Linked DNA regions of Homo sapiens: region 1 is linked to region 2. The links come from fine-mapping of genetic effects on gene expression. A gene starts in region 2. The other region holds a variant in brackets. All regions are shown on one strand. Distances are between the middles of the regions. Region 1 holds the start of LOC105370363 (a long non-coding RNA gene). Region 2 holds the start of PRECSIT (p53 regulated carcinoma associated Stat3 activating long intergenic non-protein coding transcript).

What was found. PIP is the estimated chance that this variant, and not a neighbour inherited with it, causes the effect. A credible set is the group of variants that fine-mapping cannot tell apart.
Region 1: its variant is the best candidate, but not a certain one, in a credible set for the expression of PRECSIT in testis (GTEx, PIP 0.72).

What each region holds. Positions count from the first base shown.
Region 1 is chr13:110,821,824-110,827,197 of GRCh38, forward strand. It overlaps LOC105370363 (a long non-coding RNA gene), which reads left to right and starts at 284. Exons shown (of 2, transcript XR_007063874.1): 1 at 284-724; 2 at 3,040-5,374. The variant G/C (reference allele first, on the strand shown) is at 3,318.
Region 2 is chr13:110,867,062-110,872,435 of GRCh38, forward strand. PRECSIT (p53 regulated carcinoma associated Stat3 activating long intergenic non-protein coding transcript) reads right to left here and starts at 3,247. Exons shown (of 1, transcript NR_027701.1): 1 at 1-3,247. RefSeq lists enhancers at 2,304-2,990, 2,348-3,547.

The DNA.
Region 1 (5,374 bases), 45 kb before region 2:
ATTTGTAAACACACCAATCAGCACCCTGTGTTTAGCTCAAGGTTTGTGAATGCACCAATCGACACTCTATCTAGCTGCTCTGGTGAGGCCTTGGAGAACCTGTGTGTGGAAACTCTGTATCTAACTAATCTGATGGGGACGTGGAGAACCTTTGCATCTAGCTCAGGGATTGTAAACGCACCAATCAGTGCCCTGACAAAAACAGGCCACTGGGCTCTGCCAATCAGCAGGATGTGGGTGGGGCCAGATAAGAGAATAAAAGCAGGCTGCCCGAGCCAGCATTGGCAACCCACTCGGGTCTCCTTCAACGCTATGGAAGCTTTGCTCTTTTGCTCTTTGCAATAAATCTTGCTACTGTTCACTCTTTGGGTCCATGCTGCTTTTATGAGCTGTAACACTCACAGGGAAAATCTGCAGCTTCACTCCCGAACCGAGCGAGACCACGAGCCCACCGGGAGGAAAGAACAACTCCAGACATGCTGCCTTAAGAGCTGTAACACTCACCGCGAAGGTCTGCCGTTTCACTCCTGAGCCAGTGAGACCACGAACCCACCAGAAGAAAGAAACTCTGAACACATCTGAACATCAGAAGGAACAGACTCCAGACGCGCCACCTTAAGAGCTGTAACACTCACCGCGAGGGTCCGCGGCTTCATTCTTGAAGTCAGTGAGACCAAGAACCCACCAATTCCGGACACAGAATTTCATGGAGCCTGGAGCCCAGGTAAGTAGTGAAAGCCGTCTAGAGATGGAGGAGCAAAGCGAATACACAGGTGGAGGCTGAACGCTGAGAAAAAGAGTGCTGGGGTCTTTGCAGTTTGGGTTGTAGCCACTTCCTGAGGCTCGGGATCCTGAGACAGCCCACATATGAAACCTCTCTGTGTCCTTTCCTCACTCCAGCCTGAGCTTGCGTCTGTCTTTTTCAACCCAAGTATGTGAATGAACACCGCAGGTGGTGCTCGTCTGTCTGATGTTATAAGAACTAGGCCTGTGTAAGAAGTCAGGAAGTTCAAACGTCTTTCTTTTTTTTTTTTTTTTTTTGGGACGGAGCCTCGCTCTGTCGCCCAGGTTGGAGTGCAGTGGCGCAATCTCAGCTCACTGCAACCTCTGCCTCGCGGGTTCACGCCATTCTCCTGCCTCAGCCTCCCGAGTAGCTGGGACGACAGGCGCCCGCCACCACGCCCGGCTAATTTTTTGTATTTTTAGTAGAGACGGGGTTTCACCGTGTTGCCAGGATGGTCTCGATCTCCTGACCTCGTGATCTGCCTGCCTCAGCCTCCCAAAGTGCTGGGATTACAGGCATGAGCCACCGCGCCTGGCCTCTTTAATTCTTAATAGTTTTTTTTTCTTTTTCTTTCTTTCTTTATTTTTTTTTTTGTGACAGTCTCCCTCTGTCACCTAGGCTGGAGTGCAGTGGCACAATCTCAGCTCACTGCAACCTCTGCCTCCCGGGTTCAAAGACTCTCCTGCCTCAGCCTCCCAAGTAGCTGGGATTACAGGCGCACCACCACTATGTCATGCTAATTTTTGTATTTTTAGTAGAGATGGGATTTCACTCTCTTGGCCAGGCTGGTCTCGAACTCCTGACCTCAAGTGATTCGCCCACCTCAGCCTCCCAGAGTGCTGGGATTAAAGATGTGAGCCACCACACCCGGCTTAACTCTTAATATTGGATATCAGGTTAATTTTATAACGAATGATCATTTCTTATAATTTTATTTCTTGGTTTGTTGCCCAGGCTGGAGTGCAGTGGTATGATTTTAGTGCATTGCAGCCTTGAACTCCTGGCCTCAAGTGATCCTCCTGCCTCAGCCTCCTGAGTAGCTGAGACTAGAGGCATGCTCTACTGTGCCTGGCTCATTTCTCGTAATTTGAAAAGTTAAACATCCAAGCTACAGTGAACTGAATCCAGTATTAATAGAGTGGTGTCACTTGGGGTGTTTGTATTTTATTTTGACACAAGAGAACTGACATTAAAATAGCCGAAGGAGTATGGTTTCATTCTGAAGAAGGATTGGTCAGCAGGGAGGCTTAGAAATTGGAGATTCAGGCTGGGTGTGGTAGCTCACACCTGTAATCCCAGCACTTTCGGAGGCCAAGGTGGGTGGATCACCTGAGGTCAGAAGTTTGAGACCAGCCTGGCCAACATGGCGAAACCCGATCTCTACTAAAAATAGAAAAAGTAGCCAGGCATGGTGGTGGGTGCCTGTAATCCCAGCTACTCGGGAGGCTGAGGCAGGAGAATCGCTTGAACTTAGGAGGTGGAGGTTGCCGTGAGCCGAGATTGCGCTAATTTTTGTATTTTTAGTAGAGATGAGGTTTCGCCATGTTGGCCAGGCTGGTCCAATCTCTAAGCTTCCCCTGCTGACCAATCCTTCGCACTAAGGCTTTGTGGAATCTAATGGGGGTGGCTTCTGGCCACAGGTGACTTGTCGCTTGTTCCATGCAGGCAGCAACTTCTTGGAAATACATGCTCTGTATTCGAATTGAGCAAACGTTAGCCTGGTAACAGATAACCCCCCAATCCCAGCAGTTTAACCCTTTCCTATTTGCTCCAAGAATACTCACTGGTGGTGCTTGTGGCTGCAGCGTTTACCCCGAGATAACTTTGCCACACAATATCTTGTTTTTATTATTTTCACAGTGCTCGAGTATATCGACTTTGGAAACAAAACACATCATTCTATTTATAGCACTCTGTTTTTAGTAGAGGTACTTCCATTTACAAAATACAGTCATTCTCAATCGCTGAAAATGTCAAATCCTAGAAAACGTAGCATTCCTCCGCGTGATGTTAACATCATTCTCAAACAGTTTTTGGCTGAAGATTCATTTGATGAATCTGATTTTTCAAAAATAGACAATTCTGATGATTCAGACAATTCTGATGCTAGTTCTGTTTAGAAATAACTCCAAGAACAGCTTTTATATTTTATTTTCACATTGAAAATCTGATTTGCTTCAGCCTCAAAGAGCGTGTTTATGTAAAATTAAATGAGCGCTGGGAGTGAGCTGCACTTTTTGTTTTTTCCTAAACAGGAAAAGGGTGAATCCAATGCAGGCTGATTTCTGGCTTACATCACAGTCCAGTCTGATTTTCTGCAGATTACTTTCTACAAGACGATTTGGGACCTCAGTTTACCACCTCCCAGCGGACCGACGGGTGCGGTGAGTGGAGATGATTTTGTGAGAGTTTTTAGGACAATCCTGGAAGTGGGTTTGTCACTTCTGGCTGCACTCCATTGGCCTGAAAGGAATCACACGGCCCCACCCCAATGCGGGAGGCTGGGAGTGTTCAGCGCCTGCAGAGAAGGTCA[G/C]GTGGGCTGGAAGCCCTGCGCCAGGCATGGCCACGCCCTGGTGAAGGTGCTCGACAAATGTGAACATCTCCACCTAAGCCCCCCTTGGCACCACCACTGAGTCAGTCTGTGTTTTGGATGTTTAATTTTGGGGTTCAATTTGCTGATGGTGAATTTGACAATGATGTTATTGATTAATTCATTTAAAGGGAGGAGAATCACAAATATTGTGGCTAGTACAGAACAACCTCTTCCACCAAGCCAGTTGTGACTGTTGCGGATGGAGATGGACACCTAGTGAATGATTTAATCCACCAACAATTGTGGCACACAGGCATCGTCTTCCCCACGCCAGGACTCAGAGGCTGAGCCCAGGGTGCTGAGAGGCTGAGCCCACAGCTCCGGGGTGAGGAATGGAGCTCCCCGAGCGCGGCTTATCTTTCAAGGGAGCTCACACTCTTTTACAACAACCCTCGAGGTGAGGGCTCCTTCAGACTCTCCCAACTCCACCCATGGCCACAGCCTCCGGGGCAGGGCTCCTGTTCCTACCCACCCCTCAAGCTCCTTCTCATCCACATGCCCAGGCTAACGTTAGCCACACTGGCAGCGGGGGAACTGACCCTGAGCAGCAGGCGCTGGCCCCTGCTCCAAGCCCTGCTTTCCGAGTGAACTCTTGTACCAGCTGGAATTGTCTCCGGGTGCTTCCTCCGTCAGACCACGGTCAAGTGCAGGTCCAGTGTTTTGGGTCAGATGTCAGTGGGCAGGCTCAGCATTCATCCAAAGAAATAGCAGCTTCGTAATTGGTTACTTGTAGGGGTAATTAGCTATCTGCATAAATTAACTGATTCCTCCTCATAGTATGTCCCCTATAGACAGTGAGGGTTCAATTTGCTGTTGGTGAATTTGCTAATGTGACTTATTGATTAATCTTTTTAAAGTGGGGTGGTTCCCAACACTTGAGGCCACCTGAGCCCATGGAGAGGGTGGAAACTGACCCACAAAGCTGCCAGCTGCTGGGGAACACGGGTCAGCCCAGTGAGGCAACTCTCTGGCCACATTGCCCACCGCCTGCCCTTCACTCCCACCAAGCATGGCTCCCTCAGAGTCCCATGGCTGCTCTGCTGCCCAAGGAAACTGTTCCTCTGGGCGTTCTCAAAGGCCTGAATGGATGAGTGCCATGTCCAGTGCTATGAGTCTCCTGATGGTAGATGGACACTGTGTCCCATGTCCAATGGTGGGGACTGTGCCATGCCCTGTGTCCAGTGATGCTGGATGGGCCATGCCCAGTGTCCAGTGATTATGGACAGGCACCGTGCCAAGTGTGCTATGATTATCGATGGGTGCCATGTCCAATGTCTAATGATGATGGACAGGTATGTTCAGGGTCAATTGATGGTGGATGGGCACCATGCCCAGTGTCTAATGATGATTCAATTGATGGTGGATGGACGCCATGTCCAGTGTCTAATGATGATGGACAGGTATGTTCAGGGTCAATTGATAGTGGATGGGCGCCATGTCCAGTGTCCAATAATGGTGTACCGTGCTCAATGTCTGATGAGAGTGTACAAGTGCCTTGCCCAGTGTCCAGTGATGGTGGACAGGCACCATGCCCATTGTTCAGTAATTATGGTCATTGGACATGCCAAGTGTCCAATGATGGTGGACCATGCCCAGTGTCTGATGAGGGTGTATGGGTGCCATGCCCAATAATGGTGGACAGGCATCATAGCCATTGTTCAGTGATTATGAACAGGTGCTATGCCAAGTGTCCAGTGATGGTGGATGGTGCAATGCCCAGGGTCCAATGATGGTGGATGGGCACCATGCTCAGTGTCCATTGGTAATGGATGGGTACAATGCCCATTGTCTAATGAGGGTGTATGGGCACCATGCCCAGTGTCCAGCTCATTGTCCAGTGATAATGGATGGGCCCCATGCCCAGTGTCCAGTGATTATGGACAGGCACCATGCCCAGTGTCCAGTGATTATGGACAGGCACCATGCCCAGTGTTCAGTGATGGTAGATGGGCCTCATGCCCTGTGTCCAATGATTATGGACGGGCCCTATGCCCAGT
Region 2 (5,374 bases):
GTATATTTTGTGTGCTCTCGTGAATATTTTGTGAAAATGTCCCCTGGAAGTGGATGCTGGATGAAGGTTTGAATGTCGTCACTGGGGGTAGATGTTAACCTACTGTTCTCGAGGTGGCACCACTTTCCAGCCCACCCTGACCTGAGACTGTCCACTTCCCACACCTCCCCATGCCACAGGCTGCCAACTCCTAAGCTCACATCTTAATATATTCAGTTTTCAATAAATTCACATGTGCAACCAGAAACCAAGAGGAGATTCCCCATATTCCCACTTTTCAGAGGCATCTTACGGTCATTCCTCCTCTTTACCACCAGCCTGGTTTGCTTTTGTCTCTACTTCTTGATCTGTCGACCTCAGATATTACCTCTCAGCCTTGATGATCAAAGGTGAGGATCTGGCTCACTCGTGCTGGTGCTGCCGGAGGGAGGCAGCCATGGCATTGGGTTTTGCTTTTCCAGGAGGCACTTGTGGCAGCGAGTGCCCATGTGTTTCCCCAGCATCCCTCTCTGCTTCATGGCAGAAGATCCCAGTGTCTGTCCCTCCCTAGTTCCTGGAGCCCTGGAAGCCACAGGCCGGGAGGACTGGAGGTGCATGGTGGGGTGTGGCAGAGATGCAGGGCCGTGGATCTGATGACACTGCAGCTTTCAGACTTGTTTTACCAGAGAGAAACAACTTCCATTTCATTCCCTGTGGTTTGAGGATTTTCTGTGATGTGCACCCTAATTTAACCCCAAATAAAGTAATGTCATTACAACTGTGTCTGTTGTTTTGTCTTCCGCACTCACTCCATGAGGGCACGGTACCCTGACTCTCCTCCGTGCCTCCTCTCGGCCACCACCAGGTGCTCTTGCCACTGCCACACTCCCCTCACCTGGTACCGGGTGACAGGCCACCCTTTTCTACAGAGACAACTGAGTTCTGTGCTTTGTCCATAGTTTAGTCCCAAAAAAACCCTAAGCTACACGTGCATTACTACAACTGCATGAACACTGGTCTCCTACCAAAGTCTGCAGAGGTGGAGCCCACAGCCTCCCCAGACAGGTGGGAAGCTTTGCCTCCTTCCCTGCATGCCCCACCCAGCTCATGAGGAGCTAGTTGGAGATTCTGGGTACCGCTGTGCACACCCAATGCACCGTTTACACACTCAAGTATTTGGACCGCAAATGGTACTTGTGTCTTTACTCAAACTGTTGCTATTATGGATGTTGCGGGGCAGTGGTGGAGGTGTTTGGCCAAAGAGTGACCATCATCTCAGTCTGACAGAGACTGTCCTAGTGTTAGCATTAAAAGTCCCATGTCCATAAAAACCCCTCAGTAGGCTGGGCACGGTGGCTCATGCCTGTAATCCCAGCACTTTGGGAGCTGAGGCAAGTGGATCACTTGAGGTCAGGAGTTCGAGACCAGCCTGGCCAACATGGTGAAACCCCATCTCTACTAAATATTGAAAAATTAGCCAGCATGGTGGTGGGTTCCTGTAATCCCTGCCACTCAGGGAGGCTGAGACAGGAGAATTGCTTGAACCTGGAAAGTGGAGGTTGTAGTGAGCTAAAATCACGCCATTGCACTCTAGCCTGGGTAACAGAGAGAGACGCTCTGTCTCAAAACAAAGAAACAAAAACAAACAAACCTTCAGTCCCAAGCAAATTGGGACAGTTGGTGACCCTGGTGGAGCACATGCTGTAAGATTATTTCCTAAACTATGAGTGGATAAGAATTGTTCTGAGTCTGTCCCTGTTCAGAGTCCTCATTCTTTTTCCTTTTCCTGTCAAAGCTAGTTTGATTCCTAGCAGGATTCTAGGTTAAACAACGGTTTCTTCTCAGACCTCTGGAATAGGTCCCATTGGCAGGCCACCCACATTGTCCTGAAAGTGTTCCTGACTGTCCACACGCATTAGTCCACAGGACGGAGCCACACAGCCAGGACGGAGCCGCACATCTGTTCTCCTCCACCTTTGGTCAATTCTATGCCCACCTGGTTCTTGGAAATGAACCAGGATATGTAACAAAATCCATTTTTTTCTCCTTAGGATGAAATGATGTTGAAGGAAAGAATGTTATTTGAGGACCTGCTGTCTGTCCTTTTGTTTAAAGTTGCCATTTCCAAGAACCTAATGACGACCTTAAGTGAGGAATTAGTGTGCTCATAAAAAAGTTTTAGACGTTTTACGCTTACAGGAAAATGGTGAGGATAATGCAGAGAGTTCTCATGCAACAGAAATTTCTACTATTATTCATGTCTTACATGAGATGGGCACACCCTGTCCCCGTGTCCGAGGACTGGACAAGCCCACTCTAGCGGTGCACAGCTGGGGCGTGCCCCTCGGCAGTGGGGTGACCTGGCCCTCTCGCCCAGTGATGTCCTCATGCTTTGTGTCACGTGAACCACAAAATCTGAGTGAAAACGAAAGTCCATGAATGTCCAGGGCAGCTACCAGACGTGCGCAAGTAAGTCTCATGAAACAAAAGCTTCCCTGGATGGGGACAAAACACACTTCCTTCCGCTTGTCACCATCCCTGGCTCCTTCAACTCGGTCCGTCTCCATGACGTGTTCCTCTGCTTCTCTTCCTCCGAATAAAAAGGAAACATGCCTCGTAAGGACAGCAGTGCCGGGCTGGAGCCGCCTCTCCCCATCAGCACTAATGGCGTGGTACCTCTCTGCCCGCCCTTCTCTCTCCTCACCTGTGTTTTCCTTTCTTCCCGAACCTCCTCTTGGCTGAGGCCTCATGGGAAAAATAGGGGCACTCGCCCCATGGGCCCCAGGGAAATGCCAGTACCCCGGGCCGGAGAGTAGCCGAGCCCCAGACTGAGTCGTTGCTCCATGGGCCACAAAAGCTGGTTCCCGCACAGCAGCCGCCCTGGGCCCCGGCAGACACGACAGAATGGGTTTCCTTACACAAACCGCGCTTGGCAGATGTTGCCTGAAAGACAGGAACTCCGAAATTCCAACAGAACGGCCAGCGGGTGGCTCTCTGCTCTGGCAGGCTGCAGGCTCTCAGGGACGCCATGTCTCCGGAAGGTCAGCGTCAAATGCTGGTGAGAACTCACTCACTCCTCACCTCCGTGACAGGCACGTGTGTTGGCTCCACCAGGGTGCAGAAGCCACACGAGCTGCTTTAACAGAAGACATTCATGTAAAGCACAGCTCTCGGGCCGTGGGGCTGTTAACCAGGAGGGTGCACAGTGCATGCACCGCCCAGGTTCCGGTCAGTTTTGCTCCCACAGTCATCACCCTGGAGGGCGTTTCATGTTGTTGCTGTGAGAATTTGCCGTTGCTTGAGTGAGTCATGCTGACGTGGCCCCTACTCCAGGGTTTCCAGTCTTTCTGCTCCTAGACTGACTCAGCGCTGGTCATTAGGTGCTGTCCATCAAGGGGAACTTGCCCTGGGCATGGAAAATGCTGACCAGCTCCCTGTTTTGGAAAATGACCTCATCCCCAGGCTGCCCACAGGAGGCGGAGCATGCCAATGCCGTTCCTTACTGGTGTGTATATTACTGTTTTTGTCCTTTTCATGCAGCCTGCGGAGTGTACCTCTATAGCTGTCATTTCACTCCTGTGTTTTCTCGGCCTTGGGCGAGGATCCCATGCTGCTGGTAATGAAAGCTGCCTGTTCCCTCGGTTGTTTTCACAGTCCCTCCTTTCTCTTCCAGAGAGAGGTTTTGTTTTGTTTTGTTTTGTTTGAGACAGGATCTCACTCTGTCACCTAGGCTGGAGTGCAGTGGCATGATCTTGGCTCCCTGCAACCCTGCCTCCCAGGCTCCCATCCTCCCTGCAACCCATCGTCCCACCTGTGAAGGGAAAATAAATCTTGGGCCCCCAAACTCAAGCCAAAGGGAAAAGTCAAGCTGGGAACTGGGTCATGCAAACCTGCCTCCCCTTTTGGTCCCTAAATAAGATGCTGCAAGATGAAAAACTGCACACCTCCCCTATATTTTGTCCACAAGGAAATTCCTAGTGAGCTCCGCAATCTTTACTGTAAGGTGTTTCTGTTAAGATTTCACCACAGCAATGCAAATCGATAGCTCATCTTTACAGGTGCAGTCAACCCCTGCCCGCCAGACACAAATGCAAACCTGATTGTTCCCCTGCCCCCTTTGTCTAAGTCATCTTGTGTAAAAATAATGCAGATTCAATGAGCCAAACGCATGACTATTTTTCTCTACCCGCCTCTTAGATGAAAATTGTGTACTTGTCATTATCTCACCCTTTCCCCTTTAAATTTGGAGCCCTCAAAATCATCTTCGGAGAAAGGTACAGACTGTCTCCCGAGTGTTCGTCCTTAACTTTGGCGAGTAAACCTCCTAAAATGATTGAGACTTGTCTTGTCATTTTTCTCAATTGATACACCTCAGTCTCCCAAGTAGCTGGGACTACAGGCATGCGCCACCAAGCCCAGCTAATTTTTGTATTTTTTGTAGAGACAGGGTCTCACGTTGTTGCCCAGGCTGGTCTTGAACCCCTGAGCTCAAACAACCTGCCCGCCCCGGCCTCCCAAAGTGCTGGGATTACAGGCGTGAGCCACTACGCCTAGCCAAGAGAATTTTAAAACCATTGAGGAAATAGTGCCATTGTTGTGAATCAGAGACTTGATGTGCTATTTCATGTAGTGGTTCCTGTCGTTTTGCTTGCAAAATTGGCTTCAATTATCTTGAATTATATGAACTGTCAGAAAAGCCCTGCGGCAGATGATGGTAACGAAAAGACATCCTTTAGCAGACAGGGAATAGGACTGATTCACTGATGCATCTGAGTTGCAATTTTTTTAGCTGCTTCTAAAAATCTTGTAATTAAATTCACTGGTGAGAGCACAGTAGCCTTCATAAATGGGAAAACAGAAACATCGAAGTTGTTCTCAAACCATCCTGGAATCTTAAAGTTCAGGGGGCACCTGGCAGAGGGGAGCCACAGAAAGACGGCAGGGAAGGGAGGGTTAAGGCGAGGCCGGGATAAGCCAAGCAGGGCTGTTCTGGTTTATCTTTCTTACTTTGTTCTTAAGAAAACTTGCTGAATGTAGTTGGCTTCAGATCTTCCTGTTTTAAAAAAAACGCAGTAAGATGAAAAACCTGATGTGTCCTCTGCCCTTCCCCGTCCCTCCCGCCTCTCCCTGCGGGGGGTGAGCACTCCTCAGAGTGCCTGGTGGAGAGGCCCCTGCCCTCCCCTGCACGGAGCTGGGGTGGCCTTAGGCCAACAACCATCAAAGAACTCAGGCCCTTAGTTCAGCGACCCGGGGGGAACTGGGTCCAGTCACCAGCCATGTGCGTGAGCTTGGATGCAGAGGCTCCAGGGGAGCTTTCAGATGAGACTGCAGCCCTGGCTGACACTGCACTGTGATCTCCTGAGAACGTGAGCCCAAGGAAGGGGCCCCTCCCCGG